Linked DNA regions of Homo sapiens: regions 1 and 3 are each linked to region 2. The links come from fine-mapping of genetic effects on gene expression. A gene starts in region 2. Each other region holds a variant in brackets. All regions are shown on one strand. Distances are between the middles of the regions.

The links. PIP is the estimated chance that this variant, and not a neighbour inherited with it, causes the effect.
Region 1: its variant is fine-mapped to the expression of HPD in whole blood (INTERVAL, PIP above 0.99).
Region 3: its variant is fine-mapped to the expression of HPD in fibroblasts (GTEx, PIP above 0.99).

The regions. Positions count from the first base shown.
Region 1 is chr12:121,875,575-121,883,750 of GRCh38, reverse strand. It overlaps a transcript of HPD not described here. Among named protein-coding and RNA genes, the nearest start is that of PSMD9, 9.1 kb to the left of the region's middle. RefSeq lists a silencer at 6,994-7,288. The variant G/T (reference allele first, on the strand shown) is at 3,998.
Region 2 is chr12:121,854,631-121,862,791 of GRCh38, reverse strand. HPD (4-hydroxyphenylpyruvate dioxygenase) reads left to right here and starts at 3,933. Exons shown (of 14, transcript NM_002150.3): 1 at 3,933-3,971; 2 at 4,079-4,105; 3 at 4,973-5,035; 4 at 5,360-5,464; 5 at 6,167-6,209; 6 at 6,386-6,468; 7 at 8,000-8,089. The coding sequence starts at 3,969. It overlaps TIALD (transcript inducer of AURKA lysosomal degradation), which reads right to left and starts at 6,539. Exons shown (of 3, transcript XR_002957437.2): 1 at 6,146-6,539; 2 at 4,954-5,173. RefSeq lists silencers at 475-769, 6,817-6,996 and enhancers at 1,757-2,273, 2,274-2,791, 5,812-7,011.
Region 3 is chr12:122,038,374-122,046,549 of GRCh38, reverse strand. It overlaps BCL7A (BAF chromatin remodeling complex subunit BCL7A), which reads right to left. Exons shown (of 6, transcript NM_001024808.3): 4 at 2,497-2,664. Among named protein-coding and RNA genes, the nearest start is that of BCL7A, 21 kb to the right of the region's middle. The variant C/T (reference allele first, on the strand shown) is at 4,416.

The DNA of each region.
Region 1 (8,176 bases), 21 kb before region 2:
TCCTAGGAATTTGAGACCAGCCTGAGCAACGTGGCAAGACCCAGTTTCTATCAAAAAAAAAAAAAAAAGAAAGAAGGAAAAGGAAAAGTTGGTTGTGTGGGGGAACTATCTTGCAGTTCTTCTGAGGTTTGAAATTTTTCCAAATAAAAAGGGTGAGGAGAAGATTCTTACCCATGCGGTCTGAAAAGAGAGCTGTTGTTAGGTTACTACATTATGAGCTTGTCAATATTGCTGTCATTATAATAAACCTCTATCCTGTGACTGCCTTCATAGCTCCCAAATCCACCCATCTCCTCCACCTCTACTCCTACCCCGCCACCTCTTCCTCCTGATTGGGCAGTCTTTGAACTGTCTCAGGTTGCGCACTTTAACCCAGTCTCCAAAGCAGCCAGAACAACCTTCCCAAGAGTGACATTGGCACGCTACTGCTTAATGGCTTCAGTGCCCTTCTCTTGGCCTTTAAGACTCCTGATCTCTGCTTGCCTTTAGACCACCTCCCATCCCTGTACCCCACCACACACACACACACACACACACACACACACACACACACACACACACACACACACAACTTATGCTCCAGCCATGCTGAACTTCTAACAGTTTCTGGCACGTTTTTTGCTCAGTCTCTCTTAGCACTGGGTCTTAGCACCTGCTCTTCCCACCCTGGAACACCATCTCAGGCCAGGCTGACTTGAACCTCTCCTTCAAGATCCAGCTCAAGGCTGGGTGAGGTGGCTCACACCTGTAATCCCAGCACTTTGGGAGGCCGAGGCGGGTGGCTCACTTGAGGTCGGTAGTTCAAGACCAGCCTGGCCAACATGGTGAAACCCCATCTCTACTAAAATAGATTAGTTGGGTTTGGTGGCAGGTGCCTGTAATCCCAGCTACTCAGGAGGCTGAGGCAGGAGAAGCTGGGAGGCAGAGGTTGCAGTGAGCTGAGATTACACCACTGTACTCCAGCCTGGGCAACAGAGCAAGACTCCCTCTCAAAAACAAAAAGAAAAAGATCCCTCTCAAAAACAAAAAGAAAAAGAAATACTACCTCCCTGGAAATCATTATGTGTCCCACCCCACAGCTGGGCTGTTTTCTGCACTTTTCACTTGGTATTGTAAATGCATGTTTACCTGTCTGTCCCATGCACTGGAGATTCTTAGAGAATGTGGACTGAGGCTTGTTTATCTTCAAATGTTGGACTGTTTGAGGATTGCAAGGGAACAGTCTGAGAGAGCTGTCTTTCCCCTTTCCAGTTGTTCTGTTTCATCTTCCCTGCAGTGGCCACAGACAGCCCAGCAAAACCTTTGTTTTAGAAAGCTGCCAAGATCTAGGAGAACTTCAGTTGCCTCTCTCAAGCTTTCACATCTTGCTCATCTTCATTTCAGAACGAGAGGTAGGCCAAGAGACAAACACATGGGAAATAGAGCCAGGGAACTAGAGATCCCTGGCGAGACCTGGTTGGTCAGAATTCATACTGCCTGACTTGAGGACCACCACACTTTCCATGTTTCACCTCACTCTGGCCCAGGAATCCTACAAACGACAAATCCTCCCCTCGTTTCCTGAATCTATAAAACAAGGGTCTGGACTCTGACAGCCATAAAGGTGGCAGGCTCGCTCATGAGTTGGCCCCCTAAAAGTTTTTAAGAATTGTAAATTAGTTGCTTAATCAGGCCAGCACAGTGGCTCATGCCTGTAATCCCAGCACTTTGAGAGGCCTAGGCGGGAGGATCACCTGAGGTCAGGAGTTCAAGACCAGCCTGGCGAACATGGTGAAACCCCATCTCTAATGAAAATACGAAAATTAGGTTGGGCGCGGTGGCTCACGCCTGTAATCCCAATAGTTTGGGAGGCTGAGGTGGGCGGATCATGAGGTCAGGAGATCAAGACCATCCTGGCCAACATGGTGAAACCCTGTCTCTATTAAAAATACAAAAAATTAGCTGAGCATGGTGGCACATGCCTATAGTCCCAGCTAGTTGGGAGGCTGAGGCAGGAGAATCGCTTGAACCCGGGAGGCGGAGTTTGCAACGAGCCAAGATCGCACCACTGCACTCCAGACTGGCGACAGAGCAAGACTCCATCTCAAAACAAAACAAACAAACAAACAAAAAAACAAAGTCATGGGAGCAGATAAGGATAATGAAGCCACCTGGGGCTGGTGAGCATGGGGTCTCTTACCCCACCCCTTAAGCCTAAAGGGGCAAGAGAAGGGAGGGTTTGGAAACCTAGAGAGAGTTGTAGTCACCCAACAGGAGTGTGGCCTTCAGTACAGGGACATAGCTGCTGCTAAAACAGCTGCTAAAACAACGTCTGGCAGGGAGGAAGCCAAGGAAGAGATACCCCCACTTGTCTCTCCTCTCCTTTCCTGCCAGGGTCTCAGGTTGGCTGAAGGTGATAAGGCTTGGGGCACAGAGAAGGGCAGGGAGGGAAGAGATTTGGAGGGGCTAAAGGAATATCCACCACAGTTGCCAATAATTAAGCATTTGGAAAAGTAAGATGCAGAGACCCACATAGTAAATCATCCTATTTTTATTCAGTAAAGTCAACTCCCCCATAGAATGGAAAAAGGGAAGCAGTTATACCTGTGAGGGTGTTAATATTTAGTACCTGGGCAGAGCGTGGAGCAGAGCAGAAAGTAATTTTTAAAAATAAGATACTGGGTTGTGCACGTTGGCTCACGCCTGTAATCCCAACACTGGGAGGCCAAGGTGGGCAGATCACCTGAGGTCAGGAGTTCGAGACCAGCCTGGCCAACATGGCGAAATCCTACTACTAAAAATACAAAAAATTAGCCTGGCGTGGTGGGACACACTTGTAGTCCCAGCTACTTGGGAGGCTGATGTGGGGGGATTGCTTGAGCCTGGGAGGCAGTGGTTGCAGTGAGCTGAGGTCACGCCACTGCACACCAGCCTGGGTGACAGATTGAGACCCTTGAAAATAATAACAATAATAAGATACTGCCTGGCATGGTGGCTCATGTCTGTAATCCTAGCATGTTGGAAGGCCAATGCAGGAGAATCACTTGAGGCCAGAAGTTTGAGACTAGCCTGGGCAACATGACAAGACTCTGTCTCTACAAAACATAAAATAGTAATAAGATACTTATTAATATAAATTCAGAGTAATTTAATAAAGCAATTGTTAAAGAGCATTAAACTCTACATTCAAATGAGCTAGATCACCATCCATGCTGTTTCTAATGGGAAGATCTTGGTAATGCTTGATTCTAGGAGCTGGTTAAAGAAATCATGGTACAGGCCGGGCATGGTGGCTCACGCCTATAATCCCAGCACTTTGGGAGGCCAAGGCGGGTGGATCACGAGGTCAGGAGTTCAAGACCAGCGTGGCCAAGATGGTGAAACCCCATCTCTATTAAAAATTCAAAAATTATCTGGGTGTGATGGTGGGCGCATGTAATCCCAGGGAAGCGGAGGCAGGAGAATCTCTTAAACCTGGGAGGCAGAGGTTGCAATGAGCCGAGATCATGCCACTGTACCCGAGTCTGGGCGACAGAGCAAGACACCATCTGAAAAAAAAAGAAAGAAAGAAAAAAGAAATCATGGTACAGCCTTTCTTTTTTTTTTTTTTTCTTTTTTTCATTTTGATACAGGGTCTCGCTCTGTCACTCAGGCTTGAGTGTAGTGGTGCAATCATGGCTCACTGCAGCCTCAACCTCCCAGGCTCAAGCAATCCCCCCACCTCAGCCTCCCCAATAGCTGGGACCATATACATACACCACCACACCCAGCTAATTTTTAAATTTTTGTAGAGATCTGTTCTGGCCATTGTCCAAGCTGGTCTCGAATTCCTGGGCTCAAGTGATCCACCCACCTCTGCCTCCCAAAGTGCTGGGATTACAGGCATGAGCCACTGCACCTGGCCCCACCCAGTATAGCTTTTCAATGAAACACACACATATACACACACCAGGTGAACATGTGTATTTATTGCCATGACAAAAGTGTTTACAAAGTATATGTAAAAAAATTAGCATAA[G/T]TATCAAATCATATGTATCATTATCTGTATATCTTGTCATATCTATATATGTTTATACATTTTTAGAAAGTAGTCTGTGTGGGCCAGGCATGGTGGTGCTTGCCTGTAGTCCCAGCTACTCAGGCCGAGATGGGAGGATCCCTTGAGCCCAGGAGTTTAAGGCTGCACTGAGCTGATCACACCACTGCACTCCAGCTTGGGCAACAGAGAAAGACCCCATCAAATAAGAGAAAAGAAAAGAAAAGAAAAAAGAGAAGAGAAGAGAAGAGAACAGAAGAGAAAAGGAAAGAAAAGAAAAGAGTAGTCTGGGTGGGCATTCCCAGATCATCCAAGGTGGTTGTCTGTAGATGAAGGATTATCAGTAGGCTTGTTTTCTTTACTTTTTTTTCCTCTTAATTATGTGTATTTTCATCCCCCCACCCCGCCCCAACCAAGTTGTATTAGTTATTTTTTAATTAATTATTTATTTATTTATTTAGACAGATTTTCCCTCTTGTTGCCCAGACTGGAGTGCAATCTCGGCTCATTGCAACCTCCGCCTCCTGGGTTCAAGCAATTCTCTGGCCTCAGCCTCCTGAGTAGCTGGGATTACAGGTGCCCACCACCACGCCTGGCTAATTTTTGTATTTTTAGTAGCGACAGAGCTTCGCCAAGGTGGCCAGGCTGGTCTCAAACTCCTGACCTCAGGCGATACACCCGCCTCAGCCTCCCAAAGTGCTGGGATTACAGTCAGAAGCCACCTCACCCGGCCTATAAGTTATGTATTAAAGAACAAAATAAGTCAGTCATGGTGGCTCACATCTGTAATCTCCACACTTTGGGAGGCCAAGGCGGGAGGATGGTTTGAGCCCAGGAGTTTGAGACCAGCCGAGACAACATAGTGAGACCCCCATCTTTGCCAAAGGAAAAAAAAATAGCCTGGTGTGGTAGCACATGCCTGTAGTCCCAGCTGCTGGGGAGGCTGAGGTGGGAGGATCACTTGAGCCCAGGATTTTGAGGCTGCAGTGAGTTATGATGGTGTCACTACACTCCAACCTGGGCAACAGAGTGAGAACCTGTCTCAAAAAAAAAAAAAAAGAACGAAAAACCAAAACACATATCTGTAACCTGGGCACAGTGGTTCATGCCTGTAATCCCAACACTTTGGGAGGCTGAGGTGGGTGGATCACTTGAGGTCAGGAGTTTGAGACCAGCCTGGCCAACATGGCAAAACCTCATCTCTACTAAAAATACAAAAATTAGCCGGGCGTGGTGGCGTACGCCTGTAATCCCAGCTACTTGGGAGGCTGAGGCAGGAGAATTGCTTGAACCCAGGAGGTAGAGGTTGCAGTGAGCCAAGATCATACCACTATACCCCAGCCTGGGCGACAGAGTGAGACTATCTCAATAAAAAAACAAAACAAACAAAAAACCACATAGCTGAGCTGGTTAAACAGGTGTGTTCTGTTTGTGACAATTCAGAGCTATACACTTATGCACTTCTCCATGTATACTCATCTTCAATAAAAATGCTATTTCCCAATATCTAAAAACGCACAAAATCATAAAGAAAAATTTAAAACCAATTCAATTTATTGAGATGAGAGTCACAAAACAGTGAAAACATTCAGCAGCATTTAGTAATTCACAATGTTGTGCAACCACCACCTCTATCTGGTTCCAGAATACTTCTTTCCATCACCCCAAAAGGACACCCATTCTCCTTAAGCAGTCACTTTCCCTTCCTCCCTCCCCGCAGAGCCCGGCAGCCACCAGTCTGCACTGTGGGTCTGTGGATTTACCTATTCTGGATATTTCATACAAATAGAATTCAAAACAAGACAATCTTCAAATCAAAGGATTTCACATAAAAATTCACATTGCTAACTTCTTTTGAACAAAATCCGGCCACACCAGGCCCATGTACCCACAGGCAACAACTGTCTGGAGCTAAGTTACTGCCCTCGTTGGCAGAGTGTGGGGGTGGGATGCAGCTTTCCCCAATCCCACCCAGCTCTTCTGTTTATTATTATTATTATTTTGAGACAGAGTCTCAATCCGTCACCCAGGCTGGAGCGCAGTGGCACGATCTCAGCTTACTGCAACCTCCACCTCCCAAGTTCAAGCTATTCTGGTGCCTCAGCCTCCTGAGTAGCTGGGATTACAGGCATGTGCCACCACACTCGGCTCATTTTTGTATTTTTAGTAGAGATGGGGGTCTTACCATGTTGGCCAGGCTGGTCTCGAACTCCTGGCCTCAAGTGATCCACCTGCCTCTGCCTCCCAAAGTGCTGGGACTACAGGCGTGAACCACCGCGCCCAACCTCACCCAGCTCTTCTCTGTTGCTCTCCTGGCACATTTAGGTTTCAGGTCTGTGGCCAGCAGCCTCTCACACCCCTCTCATTTGTAAAAATCTGGAGGGGCTCTAGAGGCAGTAAGGCACACCAGAAAGGATGAAAAACTAGGATTTGGGGTAAGGAGAGATGAATCCCAACTCTACCTACTAGTATGAGCCAGTTAGCTTCTCTGAGTCTCAGTTTCTTCAACTGTACAATGGGTAGAATAATACCTCCCTCACAGGGTGGTTGTGTTGCATGCAAAGCACTGGACATGTAGTCACTCACTTCTATCCCTGTAGGTAACAGAGACTCATAACAGTTCTTTTTTTTTTTTTTTTTTGGAGATGGAGTCTTGCTGTGTCACCCAGGCTAGAGTACAGTGACGCAATCTTGGCTCACTGCAACCTCCGCCTCCTGGGTTCAAGCAATTCTCCTGCCTCAGCCTCCCTTGTAGCTGGGCTTACAGGCGTGCACCACCATGCCCGGCTAATTTTTGTATTTTTAGTACAGACGGGGTTTCACCATGTTGGCCAGGCTGGTCTCGAACTCCTGACCTCAAGTGATCCTCCCACTTCAGCCCACTTCAGCCTCCCAAAGATCTGGGATTACAGGCATGAGCCACCGCGCCCTGCCACAGTTCTTCCTAAGACTCGGAAATGGGGATGGGGGTTCAGAGAGGTTAAGCCATGTATTGAAGGCAATTCAGCAAATCAGAGGCCAAAGAGAACTCCCCATTGCCCTTGCCAACGATGAAAGTCAGTGCTCCAAACTGAAGGGTGGGAGACGTATGCAAGCATGGGGACTTTGGATGATGAGGACACAGGTTCAGCCTGAAAGGGATCGATGGCTGGGCTTGAGTAACCTTACCCTCCGCTTATGCAAGTGATGGAGCTACTGACGTGATGGTAATTTAGCCTGAGAGGAAGGAAAAGCCCTTTGATGTACCCCGGGCCTTGATCCCGTATCAGCTGTTCGGCCTCCCTGGTGGCTGTTTTCCCTATCATGGGGGCCTCCCACCTCTAAACCTCAGGCAACGAAAGCAGGGAAGTAGCTCCTATTCACTCAGGAGAGCCCACGGTCAATTCTCCAGGAAGTTTGTGGGCCAGTTTTTATTATTATTATTTTTTAGACACAGTCTCGCTGTGGCCCAGCCTCAAGTGCAGTGGCACAATCTTGGCTCACTGCAGCTTCCACTTCCTGGGTTCCAGCGATTCTCCTGCCTCAGCCTCTCAGGTAGCTGGGACTACAGGCGCCCGCCACCACGCCCAGCTAATTTTTGTATATTTAGTAGAGATGGGGTTTCGCCATTTTGACCAAGCCTGTCTGAAACTCCTGACCTCAGGTGATCCTCCCACCTCGGCCTTCCCAGGTGCTGGATTACAGGCGTGAGCCACCACGCCTGGCCTCAACTTCCTAATCATTTTTACTAAGTTTTAGTATCACCAATGCTGTCTCTTCTCTTCTCTACTCTGTTCTTTTTGAGATGGGATTTTGCTTTGTTGCCCAGGCTGGTCTTGAACTCCAGGACTGAAATGATCCTCCAGACTCAGCCTCCCAAAATGGTGGGAATATAGATGTGAGCCAATGTACCCAGCCTCATCTGTGCTTTTGGGGTTATTTACTTCTGTTTGTATCCGTTTGGTATGTACTGTACTTAGCTTAACCCCAAGTTCAATGACTTCATGTTGATACTCGAAATTGACCATACCGGCCAGGTGCAGTGGCTCATGCCTGTAATCCCAACACTTTGGGACGCCGAAGTGGGCAGTGTACTTGAGCCCAAGAGTTTGCCACCAGCCTGGGCAACATGGTGAAACCCTGTCTATATAAGAAATTCAAAAATTAGCCGGGCTTGGTGGC
Region 2 (8,161 bases):
GGAGAATGGCGTGAACCTTGGAGGTGGAGCTTGCAGTGAGCCGAGATTGCACCATTGCACTCCAGCCTAAAAAAAAAAAAAAAAAAAAAAAAAGCTTGCATTGAGCCGAGATGCCAAGATCACGCCACTGCACTCCAGCCTGGGCCACAGAGGGAGACTCTGTCTCAAAAAAAAAAAAAAAAAAAAAAAAAAAAAGGCCGAGAGCGGTGGCTCACGCCTGTAATCCCAGCACTTTGGGAGGCCGAGGTGGGCAGATCACCTGAGGTCAGGAGTTCGAGACATGCCTGACCAACATGGTGAAACCCCATCTCTACTAAAAATACAAAATTAGCTGGGCGTGGTGGCACATGCCTGTAATCCCTGCTACTTGGGATGCTGAGACAGGAGAATCGATTGAACCTGGGAGGCGGAGGTTGTAATAAGCCGAGATCGCACCATTGCACTCCAGCCTGGGCAGCAAGAGCGAGACTCCGTCTCAAAAAAAAAAAAAAAAGAAATGCAGAGCTGAAGAGCAGCCCAATGTAAATGGTCCCATTAGAGAGGAACTCTTTCATCATGGACATCTGTAAGTGACCCACACTGTCCAGCAGCATCCACGATGTTTGCACAGCATATGGCCCCAGGGAGGGATGTCTCTAATCTGCCAGGGTCCTAGAGTTAAAGTCCTGTGTGTTGAGTGGAGCAATTTTGCCCATTTTTTTAGTTTGGCAGAATTCATGCTGACACTGAAACAGCTCACAGCAGACAGCATCAGGTTTCAGCATTTTTTTTTCTCTTTTTTTAAGACAGGGTCTCACTCTGTCACCGAGGCTGGAGTGCAGTGGTGCGATCATAGCTCATTGCAGCCTCGACCTCTTGGGCTCAAGCAACCGTCCCCTTGCAGAGCTTTCAGCTTGGGATCAGGTTTGGAAAACTAGAATTCGTGAATTCAGGATTTTCTTCTGCAGTAGCTAAGCCAAGAGACTGTTTGTCTCGAGGCTAAGAGCGAAGCGAGGCTTTCTTAAGCCCTTTAAGTCTGTCAGTTTCAGAGCCCGGGTGGACGCCTGTAAAAAGATCCCTATCAGCTAGAAAATCATGACTCTAAGGGTCAGCTGTGTGGTTTCACAAGGGCTCATTAGCAACTAAAAACTGCTTTTTAAAACCCTGAAAGTGTATCTCCATTTAGAGATTGCCTCTTTTTCATGTTTTTTTCCAGAAGCTGTAATATTAGCAAACACTATAGTAAGAACTATCAGTAACTGAGACTTGTTCCATTTTATTTACTTACTTACTTACTTATTTCTTTATTTTGAGACAGGGTCTCATTCTGTCGCCCAGGCTGGAGCGCAGTGGCACAATCTCGCATTGCAACCTCCACCTCCTGGGTTCAAGTGATTCTCCTGCCTCAGCCTCCCAAGTAGCTGGGTGGGATTACAGGCACACACCACCACACCCAGCTAATTTTTTTTTTTTTTTTGAGACAGAGTCTTACTCTGTTGCTCAGGCTGGAGTGCAGTGGCATGATCTCGGCTCACTGCAACCTCCACCTCCTGGGTTCAAGCAATTCTCCTGTCTCAGCCTCCCAAGTAGATGGGACTACAGGTGCCTGCCACCATGCCCAGCTAATTTTTGTATTTTTAGTAGAGACGGTGTTTCACCATATTGGTCAGGCTGGTCTCAAACTCCTGACCTCAGGTGACCCACCCGCCTCAGCCTCCTAAAGTGCTAGGATTATAGGCATGAGCCACTGCATCCAGGCTAATTTTTGTATTTTTAGTAGAGATAGGGTTTCACCATGTTGGCCAGGCTGGTCTCGAACACCTAACCTCAAGTGATCCTCCCTCCTCGGCCTCCCAAAGTGCTAGGATTACAGGTGTGAGCCACTGGGCCCTGCCTTATCTATTTTTGATACAAGTTCTCACCCTGTTCCCCAGGCTAGAGTGCAGTGGCGTGATCATAGCTCACTGCAACCTTTAACTCCTGGACTCAAGTGATCCTCCCACCTCAGCCTCCTGAGTGGCTGGGGACTACAGGTGCTCACTACCAGGCCCAGCTAGGTGAATGCTTTTCTGCACACCAGGGTATTTTCAAGGATGCGTCCTATGAACCCATCTGATCAGTGAGCTTCTTGAGCAAGGCCTCTGGAACCCACCTCTGCATGGTCGGGCATGAAGAACAGAGACAGTCACACCCAGCCACTGCTGATCTGTTATCCAGTGGAGCCCAGCCTGAACAGAGAGCATCAGGGAGGGGACTCTGGATACTGGGCCCTGCAGGCTTGCCTCCCTGCTCTCTGCCCAGACATGTGAATGGCATCTAGGGGTGCACCCAGCATGGGACTGAGACCTACAGTGTTGGGGACAGAGTTCCTACCTCTAGATGCCTGCCAGCCTTTGCAACCCACTGCTGTTGACACACTTCCTTGAGTTAGTAAACATTGGCCTTTGTGCTTAGCATATAAGCCAGGGCAGGCTCCAGGAGTGGGGGTTTGAGTTGGCCACAGCAATCAAAGTGACAAGATGTTCCTGCTGGCCTGGAGGGGATAGGCAGGCTACACAGAGCTCTTCTCCTCCATGGGAACCTTCTGGGCCTGTGAGATCCACCCTGGGCCACCTCCACTCAAGTTTTCCCAGTTGGATATTTATTTATTTATTTGAGATGGAGTCTCACTCTGTCACCCAGGCTGGAGGGCAGTGGCATGATCACTGCTCACTGCAATCTCTGCCTCCTTGGTTCAAGTGATCCTCCTGCCTCAGTCCCCTGAGTAGCTGGGACTACAGACGTGCACCACCGTGCCCAGCTAATGTTTGTATTTTTAGTAGAGATGAGGTTTTACCATGTTGCCAGGCTGGTCTCAAACTCCTGGCCTCAAGTGATCCTCCCTCCTTGGCCTCCCAAAGTGCTGGGATTACAGGCGTGAGCCACCACCCCCGGCCCCCAGTTGGAAATTTAGACTTAAGGAGCTGAGGTGGACACTGGGAGCACACTGGGCAGGCCCAGGACAGGCAGAATAAGGGGGTGGGACCACCTTGCCTGCCTCCTGAATGGCCCAGAAAATAGAGAAAAGGAGGGAGAAGTGGTCTGCACTGGTGCAATGAGATCCAACTTCAGAATCAAACAGGCCAGAGTTTGGGGCTCTGCTCTTACCAGTTCCATGACCTGGGAGACATGTGTTCACCTCTCCAGGCCTCAGTTTCCCCATCTGATGGGGATATCAATATCTCCCATTTGTATAGAGGGCAATCTAGCAATTTAAAGTGTGGGTCCTGGAGTTAGAATAGCCCGGTTCATGTTCCAGTTCTTCCCTGCCGCTTGCTGACCTCATGGCCTAGGAATGTTCTCTGTCCCAATGAATTATAACCAACACTGAGAGTGTCCTGTGTGCCAGGTCCTGTTCCAAAGAGCGTGCTTATCTCCTTTAATCCCCACCACACTATTCTCATTCCTGTTTTACAAATGAGGCTCAAAGGGATATGGTGATTTTCCCAAGTCACACTGTATGTAACAGAGCCAGGATGCAAACCTTCTCCTGCCGTGCCTCTCAGAGCTATGGAATACAACGCTGTGACGCAAACAGGACTTTGGGGCCAGTCTCCAAATGCCCCCTCAAATTTCCTCTAGGCAAGAGTTCTGGAGCCGCCACTGCACTCCAGCCGGCCTTGGCTTCTGAGCTTTGGATTCTGGGCAGTAATGGTCACATTCCCAGCGTCCTGGAAAAGCTTGCCCTTGGCTTCTGGCCCTGACTCTGCCTCCCACTGACTAGTGGACGTCACTGCCCCTCTCTGGGCCTGGCAACACCATCCTGTTCAATGAGGCTGCGGCTGGATCAGAGGTCCCCAGGCCTGGAACCTTCCAGGGCTGGGCTCAGCTCCCCACCCCATCCCCCAGGTAGGCCAGGAGGCCTGGGCGGGACCTGCTTGGGGTTAAATACTCCGGCCCAGCACTCCCCAGGCCTCTAGTCCCAGTAGGAGGTTTGACTAAGATCAATCATGGTAAGTGCCATGGCCATCTCCCCTTGGGTGGGACATCTTCAGTAACGCTTCCAGAAGCACCTTGTGTTGGAACCTCCAAGTCTCACTGTCCTTCTTTTTCTCCTTAGACGACTTACAGTGACAAAGGGGCAAAGGTAAGCAGGCGAAATGTGGGAAATGTAGGGGCCTGAGTCTAGAAGGGGGTCGGAGTGCAGGGAGACTGGGGTTTCAGCAGAGAGCAGAAGAGGAAGGACTGGAGTGGATACATGACGTGCATGCCTGCACACTCAGCTTTACCCCCGGGGCTCCCCGAGACTGAGCTGGACTCAACCTCACCCTCACAACAAACTTGTATCCTGGCCGGGCATGGTGGCTCATGCCTGTAATCCCAGTGCTTTGGGAGGCCAAGGCAGGCAAATACTTGAGGTCAGGAGTTCGAGACCAGCCTGGTCAACATGAGGAAACCCCGTCTCTACTAAAAATACGAAAATTAGCCGGGCATGGTAGCGCACCCCTGTAATCCCAGCTACTCAGGAGGCTAAGGTGGGGGAGATCACTTGAACCCTAGGATCGCTTGAACCTGGGAGGCGGAAGTTGCAGTGAGCCAAGATTGCACCACTGCACTCCACTCCAGCCTGGGCAATAGAGCAAAACTCCATCTCAGAAACAAAAACCAAAACAAAACCTGTACCCCTTCTCAAATGCCTGCCAATCTTTTAATCCCATCTGGAAGTTCTTTCTAAGGTCTAACTTAAATCCATATTGCTGCAACATAAGTCTATTTCCCTGTGTGAAACCTTGGCAGGCCTCCTGAGGGGGTTTCCCCATCCAAGACACCCAGGAGCTCAACTTCCACATGAGAAACCTCTTTTGAGGCTTGGCAAGGCTGCATGGGGTTCCGCTGCTCCTAAGTTCTGTGGTTGAGGCTGGAATAAGGAGGGTGGCTAGGGGACATCACTCCACCCGCACTTTTCTAGACTCACTTTCAGGGACTCAACCTCACCTCTTCTCTCCTTCTGCAGCCTGAGAGAGGCCGATTCCTCCACTTCCACTCTGTGACCTTCTGGGTTGGCAACGCCAAGCAGGTAGAAGCCGGGGCAAGGTGCTGGAGTGAGCAGACGGCAGGGCAGAGGGCTGCCTGACAAGGGCAGGCCTCCAGCAGGGTCTGTGATTGGCCCTTGGGAGGGAGGATCAGGCCAGGGGTGGGCCAGATACTCTGAATCCTAATTACACCAGCGGGAAAGTTATCTGTCAGCAAAATGTGCAGGCAGCAGTCTATCTTCCCAGGAGGGTCTCTGCCCCTGAGGCAATAGGGCAGGCAGGCTGAGGGGGGCCAGGGGCTCTCTTGCGGAAGTCCCCCATGCTGGCCCCTTGACCCTCATGAACCCTGCTGCAACCCTGTGATTCAGGCCACGTCATTCTACTGCAGCAAGATGGGCTTTGAACCTCTAGCCTACAGGGGCCTGGAGACCGGTTCCCGGGAGGTGGTCAGCCATGTAATCAAACAAGGGAAGGTGAGTCACCACCCCCAGGACAGCCCCCAACCCCTGCCTGGCCAACATGGTGAAACCCCATCTCTATTAAAAATAGAAAAATTAGCTGGGCATGATGGTGGGCACCTGTAATCCCAGCTACTCAGGAGGCTGAGGCAGGCACATCGCTTGAACCCGGGAGGCAGAGGTTGCAGTGAGCCAACGTCGTGCCACTGCACTCCAGCCTGGGCGACAGAGCAAGACTCCATCTCAACAAAAAAAAACAAAAAACAACAAAAAACCCCAACAACAACAACAAAAACATATAATTCAGCTCCCACCGACCCCTCCGCTGGCATCTTTGTACAGCCATGCAACACGGCCCTTCCTAGTTTCGTTTCCTCCTCAGCCTGGCCCAACACTGACCCCACAGGTGCTCAGAAAACCTGGGATATCAGAGGAGAGGAATTTTAAGCAGTGCCCTGACCGATGGGGTCCCTGGAGTTCTCTCCCCGAGGGAGACCTGACCTAGCAGTTCCTCTGAGGATCCAGAGGGGGTCTGGCTGAAAGCCCCATCCCTCAGGACCAGTGTGGGAAACTAAGGCAGAGAAGGAGCTAGAACCCAGGTCCAGGAGTTCTTGTGCTCCATCAGGGGTGTTTCGGGTCGGCAGGGAGGGGCCGATGGGTGCACCTCCCCATGCCCCCCTGAGCCACTAGCCTCACCTCCTTCTCCTCCTATCTTAGATTGTGTTTGTCCTCTCCTCAGCGCTCAACCCCTGGAACAAAGGTGAGGTGCCCGGGGAGGGTGGACGCATGGCTCTGTGGGTGGGATCTGGGTTCTGGGAGGGTGGACGCATGGCTCCGTGGGTGGGCTCTGGGTTCAGGGCCTGGATGGAGACTAAAAGCCAGGTGAGGGGACCTAGACTCCAGACTCCAGTGCCATCCTCTCCCTGCCGGCCACAGAGATGGGCGATCACCTGGTGAAACACGGTGACGGAGTGAAGGACATTGCGTTCGAGGTGGAAGATTGTGACTACATCGTGCAGGTAAGAAAGCACCTGGGTGGACTGAGAGAGGAAGGCCTCCGTCTGCCATGGGGACCCCATCAGTCAGGGCTGGAAGGACACTGCTGCATCACAGTGACAAGCCCAGATGCCACATCACAGTGACAAGCTCAGATGCTGCATCACAGTGACAAGCCCAGATGCTGCATCACAGTGACAAGCCCAGATGCTGGTGTGACACACACCTGGGCTCCGGGGGTGCCCTGCCTTCCCCCGTGTCCTCTCTCTCACTGAGCCTCAGTTTCCACAGCTGCCAGATGGGGCTAACCACAGCTGGGTTGTCAAAGGAGGAAATTAGAATTACCATTTCCTTTTTTTTTTTTTTTTTTTTTTGTGAGACGGAGTTTTGCTCTTGTTGCCCAGGTTGGAGTGCAATGGCACGATCTCGGCTCACCGCAACTTCTGCCTCCTGGATTCAAGCAATTCTCCTGCCTCAGCCTCCTAAGTAGCTAGGATTACAGGCATGCGCCACCACGCCCGGCTAGTTTTGTATTTTTAGTAGAGATGGGGTTTCTCCTTGTTGGTCAGGCTGGTCATTTCCTTTTTTTTCTTTTTTCATTTTCTTTTTCTTTCTTTTGTGTGTGTGTGTGTGTCAGAGTCTTGCTCTGTTGCCCAGGCTGGAGAGCAGTGGCGCAATCTTGGCTCACTGCAACCTCCACCTCCTGGGTTCAAGCGATTCTCCTGCCTCAGCCTCCCGAGTAGCTGGGATTACAGGCGCCTGCCACCATGCCCAGCTAATTTTTGTATTTTAGTAGAGATGGAGTTTTGCCATATTGGCCAGGCTGGTCTTGAACTCCTGACCTCAAGTGATCCACCCACCTCGGCCTCCTAAAGTGCTGGGATTACAGGCATGAGCCATTTTGCCTGGCCTCAGAATTACTGTTTCTTGAGCACAACTCTAAACCAAACACTGTACCCAACAGGCAGCCTACAGATTCAGAGTGTGCGTTCCAGAGCCAGGCTCTCCAGGTCTGAATCTTAGCCGTGTGACTTCGGGCAAGTGACTTAATGTCTCTGTGCTTCAACGTCCTCACCTAGAGAATGGAGATGATAATAGTACTTTTGCATAATGTTGCTGTGAGGATGAACGAGGTTAGAATCTAGAACAGAGCCTGGTGCATGATATAAGCACTGTCATGCAGTCCAGTTTTGCTAAATAAATGCATGAATCTTCTTATTATTCTCATCCAACCATTCTTTTTACAGATGGTGAAATTGAGGACTAGAGAAGGGGACTGATCACAGGGGGAGTTAGCAGAGGCAGGACAGACACCCATCCCTACCTAGTTTGTCTCCCATAGCCCCAACTCTGGGCCTGGGCCTCAGTTTCCCTATTTGCCAAATGAGCATGAGTATTGGGGGTAATGGCTGAAGCTGGCTGGGGTTCCTACCTGGGGCTGGAGAAACTGGAGGGGCCTGCAGGACCACGCAGAGGCCACCAGGCAGGAGCAGCAGGCAAGGGTTCTGGAAGGCTCCAGCCCTCACCAATTCCCCGATCCCATCTTCTCTGCAGAAAGCACGGGAACGGGGCGCCAAAATCATGCGGGAGCCCTGGGTAGAGCAAGACAAGTTTGGGAAGGTGAAGTTTGCTGTGCTGCAGACGGTGAGTTCCCTTTGGTGCCCCCACCCCTCCTGCTGTCGGCACCACTGAGATGCCAGGAGCCCCGCAGCTGAC
Region 3 (8,176 bases), 180 kb before region 2:
CCCTGCTGACCTATGGGTTCTTGGGGTGCAGGAAGCAGAGTGCAGCTATGACTGGGGCCCTGGCGCCAGCCCAGAGCCTCCTTGCACAGGGGTGCGGATCAGCTCTGCAGCAGGGGACAGCCTTTCTCCTAGAACCACACTGGCTGCTCCCAGGACACACACGCCCTGAGCCCTGGGGTGGCCCTAGCTGCAGGCTGGTCACATTTGCCATTCCACATTCCATGCTCGCCAGCTCCTCATGGGTGTGCAAGGCGCTCCAGACCTGGCCTGCCCTCCCCAGACCCGCTCAGCCACTGCTGTCCCTCCAGGTGCCCAGAGTTGCCCTCAGGTCCGCACTCACCCCTATGTACTGCCCAACACAGGCTCTCCCCTCACCTTCAAAATATACCTCCATGTTAGACCATCCGGAATGCTGCTCATTTTCTTAGATGCAGTAACGGTATTTGTAAATCTGTAAGAGAATGCCTTTTTTTTTTTTTTTTTTTTTTTAGCAAGGTCTCACCCTGTTACCCAGGCTGGAGTGGTGCAATCATGGCTCACTGCAGCCTCGACCTCTCAGGTTCAGTCGATCCTCCTGGGACTACAGGCGCATGCCACCATGCCGGGCTCATTTTTATATTTTTTGTAGAGACGGGGTTTCGTCTTCTTGCCTAGGGTGGTCTTGAACTCCTGGGCTCAAAAGATCCTCCTGCCTCAGCCTCCCAAAGTGCTGAGATTATAAGCATAAGCTACTGTGCCCAGCCCAGAATGTCTTTATTTTTAAAAGACACGTGCTGACATGTTTAGGGATGAAATGTCCTGAGATCTATAACTTACTTTCAAATGGTCCCAGAAAAAATACAAAGCAAAAGAAACCCAAAAGCCAACAATTGCCAAGTTCAGCAGGTGGATATATAGGACAGTATTATGCCATTCTTTTAATTTTTCTGTAGAGACTCAAAATAAACACACACAAATATTTGTGTACACATTCACACAATCACACACACACTCTCACACAATCACCCCATCATCTGTTCTTAATCCTTCAGATCATGTCACCCAAGCCCCCAGTGGCTCCCGTCTTACCATGAAAACCCAGGCCAGGCAGTGGCCTTACGAGCCCCCCACACCTGAGGCGCTGCCTGCTGTCTGACCCCGTATTATTATTAACTTTTTAAAATTTTTCTGAGACAGAGTCTTGCTCTATCGCCCAGACTGGAGTGCAATGGCACAATTTCGGCTCACTGCAACCTCCGCCTCCTGGGTTCAAGTGATTCTCTTGCCTCAGCCTCCTGACTAGCTGGAATTACAGGCACATGCCACCACACTCTGCTAATTTTTGTATTTTTAGTAGAGACAGGGTTTCACCGTGTTGGCCAGGCTGGTCTTGAACTCCTGACCTCAAGTGATCCGCCTGCCTCGGCCTCCCAAAGTGCTGGGATTACAGGCGTGAGCCACCGCGCCTGGTGCCCATCTTATTTTCCAGCTCCTCACTCACTCTTACCTCTGCCCACACTGCTCTCCTCCCAGATCCCCACATGGCTTGCTCAGTCGCCCAGTTTGAGCCTTGTCTTATTCAAAGGCCGCCCCGACCACCCCATTTAAAACTGCAACTCTCCAGGTCATTCAGCAAGACCCCCCACCCCTTTCCTACTTTATAATTCTCTGCCACACTTATCTTCCTAATACTAGGTTGTCTGATTTTTAAATACATTTAAAATTTATTAATATAATTATATTTTGAGCCAGGGTCTCACTCTGTCACCCAGGCTGGAGTTCAGTTGTGTGATCACGGCTCACTGCAGCCTCCAACTCCTGAGCTCAAGGGATACTCCCGCCTCAGCCTCTTGAGTAGCTGGGACCACAGGCACATGCCACCATGCCCAGCTCATCTTAAAGCATTTTTTTGTAGAGACAGGGTCTTGCTATGCTATCCAGGCTGGTCTCAAACTCTTGGCCTCAAGTGATCCTCCTGCTTCAGCCTTCCAAAGCATTAGGATTATAGGTGTGAGCCACCATGCCTGGCCAATTGTTTGATTTTTATTTATTTACTTATTATTGAGACAGGGTCTTATTGTCACCCAGGCTGGAGTGCGGAGGCATGATCATGGCTCACTGTAGTAGTCTTGACCTCCTGTGCTCAAGTGATCCTCCGACCTCGGCCTCCTGAGTAGCTGGATCACAGGTGTGTGCCACCACACTTGGCTATTTTTTTTTTTTTGGTAGAGATGAGGTCTTGCTATGTTGCCCAGGCTGGTCTTGAACTCCTAGGCTCAAGCAGTCCTCACACCTTGGCCTCCTAAAGTGCAGGGATTACAGGCATGAGCCACTGCACCTGGCCTGTCTGATTTTTTTAATTCCCCCACGAGACCATGTACTCCAGGTGTCACCTCTCTTTACTGTCTCCTTGCTGGGGCTGGCACATGACAGGGCCTCCTGGAACACCTAGCCACAGACTGCCTGAAGGCCGGTTACAGGGAGGCCGTCAGAGCCCCACCTCCAGAGGCCACATACCTTCAGCTCCTGGGTGCTCCTTCCCATCAGCCTGGGCCTCATCCACCTTGGCCTCGGTGCCGTCGCTGGGCACAGCCGAGTTGGGCTCTGGAGCGGGGCTGGAGTTGCTGCTGTTCTCCTGTTTGATGGGGGAGGCATCTGCGATGGAGCTCTGGTTGCTGTTATCGTCTGTAGGGGGTGGGAACAGAACCACAGGATGAAATCCCACAGCTGCCAAGGACGGGTAGGTCAGAGGGCTCAGCATCCCTGTGCCTCAATGCCCGGAACCCCATGGCAGCTCTCCCGGGGAGGGGTCTGGTTACCGTTTTTTTTTTTTTTGAGACGGATCTCGCTCTGTCAACCAGGCTGGAGGACCGTGGTGCAATCTTGGCTCACTGCCTCCACCTCCCGAGTAGCTGGGATTACAGGTACTTGCCACCACGCCTGGCTAATTTTGTATTTTTAGTAGAGATGGGGTTTCACCATGTTGGCCAGACCCGTCTCGAACTCCTGACCTCAGGTAATCCTCCTGCCTCGGCCTCCCAAAGTGGTGGGATTACAGGCGTTGAGCCACTGCACCCGGCCGTGTGGTAGGGGTCTGGATACTGGATACGCCTCCTCCTGGGACCCCTGAGCTCACTCCCGCCCCCTGACCCCCACCCACCCACCCACCCAAGCACCACAGCCATCCCATGTGTCCAGAGAGGCAAAGAATTCCGGCACTGGCCTGACCTTCCCCACACTGAGCCAACTGTACCCTGCGTCTGGAGGCAGCCAGCTGGGGATGGTGGCCTAACATATTTAAAATCCTGGGGGGACATTTGAGGCCTCATTCTGGGTGTAGAAACCAGACGTCTTGTGTGTCTGGCAGGGAAGCGATACAGAAGACACGGCATGGTCCGTGAGGCGGGATTGCCAAGGCGTTCTGTCTGACTGCATCCAGCCTGGAGCTGAGTTCCACTTGATAGGAAATAAAAGGGAGAGAGAGACAGCGGGAGGTGGCATATTCCACGGGACACGTGGTCCACTCCCTTAAAGTCAGTATCATATTTAAAAAAAAAAAAAAGTTGGGGGAGGGGAGATGACTTTAGAATAAAGAAAGCTAGGAGACTCGACTAAATATGATGTATGGAAATGATTTGGATCCTGTTTCAAACGTGCCAGCTGTAACACTTTGGAACAATTGGGGAATTTGAATATGGTCTGGGTTTTAAAAGCTATTAAGGAACTGTTGTTAATTTAGTTAGAAGTGATCATGGGACAGTGGGTATGTAGAAACGTCATATTTTCAGCAATGCATGCTATGACGTTTAGGTGCAGACTTGAATGTCATGAGGCAGGGAAATTTACCAGAAAATACTTCAGTGCAGGCTGCCGGCCACTGTCAGGACTCCCTGAACTTTTACACTTTTTTTTTTTTTTTTTGAGATGGAGTCTTGCTCTGTCGCCCAAATTGGAGTGCAATGGCGCGATCTGGGCTCGCTGCAACCTCCACCTCCTGGGTTCAAGCAATACTCCTGCCTCAGCCTCCCAAGTAGATTACAGGCGCCTGCCACCATACCTGGCTGAGTTTTGTATTTTTTAGTAGAGACGGGTTTCTCCATGTTGGCCAGCCTGGTCTCGAACTCTTGGCCTCAGGTGATCTGCCCACCTCAGCCTACCAAAGTGCTGGGATTACAGGTGTGAGCCATCACACCCGGCCACTAGCTGTGTATTTTTTATATGTGAATTATATTTTAATTACAAAAATCTAACACATTGAAAAAATAGATGAGACAAATGTGGCACCGTGTTCATGAAAATCAAGGTGGAGTGTACAGGGGGATCGTATTCCTCTCTCTACTGTTCTTGACAACAAAACCCTTCACAATACAAAGAAGAAAGAGAAGGGGTAATTGGGCAATGGCATTTACAGTTGGGCTGGGGGCAGAGCTGGGGCC[C/T]GGGCTGCACCTCCCCTTGTCCTGCACCCCCTTCTCAGGCACAGAGTCACTCTATTTATTTTTTTGAGATGGAGTCTGTCACCCAGGCTGGAGTGCGGTGGCGCGATCTCGGCTCACTATAATCTCCACCTCCTGGTTCAAGCGATTCTCATGCCTCAGCCTCCCAGGTAGCTGGGATTACAGGCATGCACCAACATGCCCAGTTAACTTTTGTTTTTATTATTTTTTAGTAGAGACGGGGTTTCGCCATGTTGGTCAGGCTTGCTCTTGAACTCCTGACCTCAGGTGATCTGCCCGCTTCAACCTCCCAAAGTGCTGGGATTACAGGAGTAAGCCACCACACCCAGCCATTTATGTATTTTTTATTTTTAGAGACAGGGTCTTGCTCTGTTGCCCAGGCTGGAGTACAGCAGCACAATCATAGCTCACTGCAGCCTCGAACTCCTAGGCTCAAGCCATCCTCCTGCCTCTGCCTCCTGAGTAGCTGGGGCCACAGGCATGTGCCACTGCATCTGGCTAATTTTTAAGTTTTTTGTAGAGATGGGGTCTCACTATGTTGCCCAGGCTGTCTTGGACCCCTGGGCTCAAGTGATCCTCCTGTCTTGGCCTCCCAAAGCACTGAGATCATAGGCCTGAGCCACTGTGCCCAACCTAGGAGAGTCGTTTTAAACAGCAGAGACCCAAGTGGAGGTTTCAAAACCAAAGCAGCCTTTCTGGGGGCCATGCTGCACCCGGGGCGATGGCCACTTTTGTAAACATGAGAAAGAGACAGAGACACCCCAACAGACCTGGGCACCTGCCACCATGCCAGGCACTGGGCAGAAGCATTTATGGACACCTCGTGGAATCCTCCCCACAACCCGTTGGAAAGGCACCGTTACCACCTTCACTTTCCGGAGGGGGAAACTGAGGCTGGGAGCAGCAGAGCCACTTGCCGGACCCATCTGCCCAACTCCCAGCCCCACGCCCCTCCTCTACCTCAACCTGCCGAGGAAGCACCAGGCAGTCAGGCGGCCCCACACGGGTAACCTGGATCTGATTTTAACTGTACTCTGGGGTGCTCGTTACACAAAAGCATCCTCTTGTGAATTCTGGGACTTAAAAAAAAAAAAGAAGGATGTGTGCTCCCCGATTTCTCCCTTGAGAAAAACTAGACTTCCTTCCTATGGCAAGCACACGCGCAAGAGGCTGGCCCCGTAGGTTCCTGAGGCTCTGTTAATGAATGACAATGAGCACTAATGTTTAACGTCTGGTCTAGCCTGGTAGCCTGGTAACAGCGTGACCCTGATACTTGGGCTAACTTCAGCTGAGTCTTGTGGACTAAAGGGCCCGGGGCACCGCCCTCTCCTTCATCCCCTGCTGTACCCATCCTCCCACTTGAAGCCTTCCAGAAAACTTGCCCGGCCCACACCTTTCCCTGACCTTCCCATTTACACACTCTGCAGTCTGACTGGCTTTCGGCTGCACGTGCACTAAAATGAAAATCAGAAAGTCAACAGGGCACCTGTGTCTGGGGACCTGGTTTGTTCAGCATCCTAGATTTTTCTGGAGAGTTTATCCAGGTCACAAATCTGGATCTTTTGGTTTTTTTTTTTTTTTTTTGGAGACACGGCCTCACTCTCTTGCCCAGGCTGGAGTGCAGTGGTGCAATCTTGGCTCACTGCAACCTCCCCTTCCCGATTCAAGGGATTTTCCTGCCTCAGCCTCCCGAGTAGCTGGGATTACAGGTGCCCACCACCATGCCCGGCTAATTTTTGTATTTTTAGTAGAGATGGGGTTTCACCATTGTTTGGCCAGGCTGCTCTCCAACTCCTGACCTTAAACGATCCTCACAACTTGGCCTCCCAAAGTCCTAGGATTATGGGTGTGAGCCACCACGGCCAGCCACAAACCTGGATTCTGTCTTCAAAGAACCAACCTCAAATGCCATCAATGGCACTGGAAGTTATGAACTTGCTAACCATGCATGTTACTTCACCTCACTGGGCCTTAGTTTCTCCATCTGTAAAATGCGGTTGGTTATTAGACTCAAATGAGGCAATGATGTAACGGGCTTAGCACAATACTTGGCACATTGTGACGGTTTCATAAATGTGAGCTGTTAACATGCCAAGGTTTTTAAAATTTTTATTATAGGCTGGGCACAGTGGATCATGCCTATACTCCCAGCACTTTGGGAGGTTGAGGGAGGAGGATTGCTTGAACTCAGGAGTTTGGAAACAGCCTGGGCAACATAGCAAGACCCTGTCTCTATTTTTGAATACAGTAAAATAATTTTTTTTTTTTATGGAGTCTTGCTCTGTCGCCCAGGCTGGAATGCAGTGGCATGATCTCAGCTCACTGCAACCTTTGCCTCCAGGTTCAAGTGATTCTCCTGCCTCAGCCTCCCAAGTAGCTGGGATTACAGGCGTGTGCCACCACACCCAATAATTTTTGTATTTTTAGTAGAGATGGGATTTTACCATAGAGACCAGGCTGGTCTCCAACTCCTGACTTCAAATGATCCTCCCATCTCGGCCTCCTAAAGTGCTGGGATGACAGGCATGAGCCACCACACCTGGCCCAAAATAAAATATTTACTATAATTATATTATATATTATATTATATAATATATATAATATATATATTATATATATATATATATTTAAGAGATGGGGTCTTGCTCTGTTGCCCAGAGTGGAATGCAGTGGTGCAATTACTGTTCACTGCAGCCTCCAACTCCCAGGTTCAAATGATCCTCAGCCTCCAGAGTAGCTGTGACTATAGGTGCGCATCACCACAACCTGCTAATTTAAATTTATTATTATTATTATTTTTTTTTTTAATCTATTTTTTTTTAGACTGAGTCTTGCTCTGTCGCCCAGGCTGTAGTGCAGTGGCGTGATCTTGGCTCACTGAAAGCTCCACCTCCCAGGTTCACGCCATTCTCTTGCCTCAGCCTCCCGAGTAGCTGGGACTACAGGCACCAGCCACCACGCCTGGCTAATTTTTTTGTATTTTTAGTAGAGATGGGGTTTCACCGTGTTAGCCAGGATGGTCTCGATCTCCCAACCTCATGATCTGCCCGCCTTGGCCTCCCAGAATGCTGGGACTATAGATACGAACCACCTATTGTTTTTTTTGTAGAGATGAGGTCTCCCTGTGTTGCCCAGGCTGGTCTCAAACTCCTGGGCTCAAGTGATCCTCCTAACTCGGCCTCCCAAAGTGCTGGGATTACAGGTGTGAGCCACTGTGCTTGGTCCCATGCCAAGGTTTTTAAGAGATTATTTAATTTAATCCTCACAGTGAGTTTATGAAGTAGGCATTACCATCCCCATTCTACAGATTAAAACTAAACAAACCCCAAAGCTAGAGGTTAAACAAATAGCCCAAGATCACACAGCCAGGGGAAGGTGCAGGGAGAGTTAGGATGTGAACCCAGGTGGGGTCCTGGCCTCAGCTCGAAAAGGCCCTCTGGTGTAATTCTGCGTCTGTAATCCAACCTCAGTCCTGAGTCGGGCGTGGGGTCTCCCCAGTCCCCAGAGGGAAAGGGGATGCTAAGGAATGCCACTGAGACAGGCCACATCCCAGCTCACATATCTATTTCTGAAAATGAAACATAACCCAACTATGATTGTATGGCTGGTTGGGGGGGCTTTCTTGACACATTAACCAGCAACAAAGCCCCACTGCTCTTTTTTTTTTTTTTTTTTTTTTTTTTTTGAGGCAGAGTCTCGCTCCTTTGCCCAGGCTGGAGTGCAGTGGCCTGATCTTAGCTCAC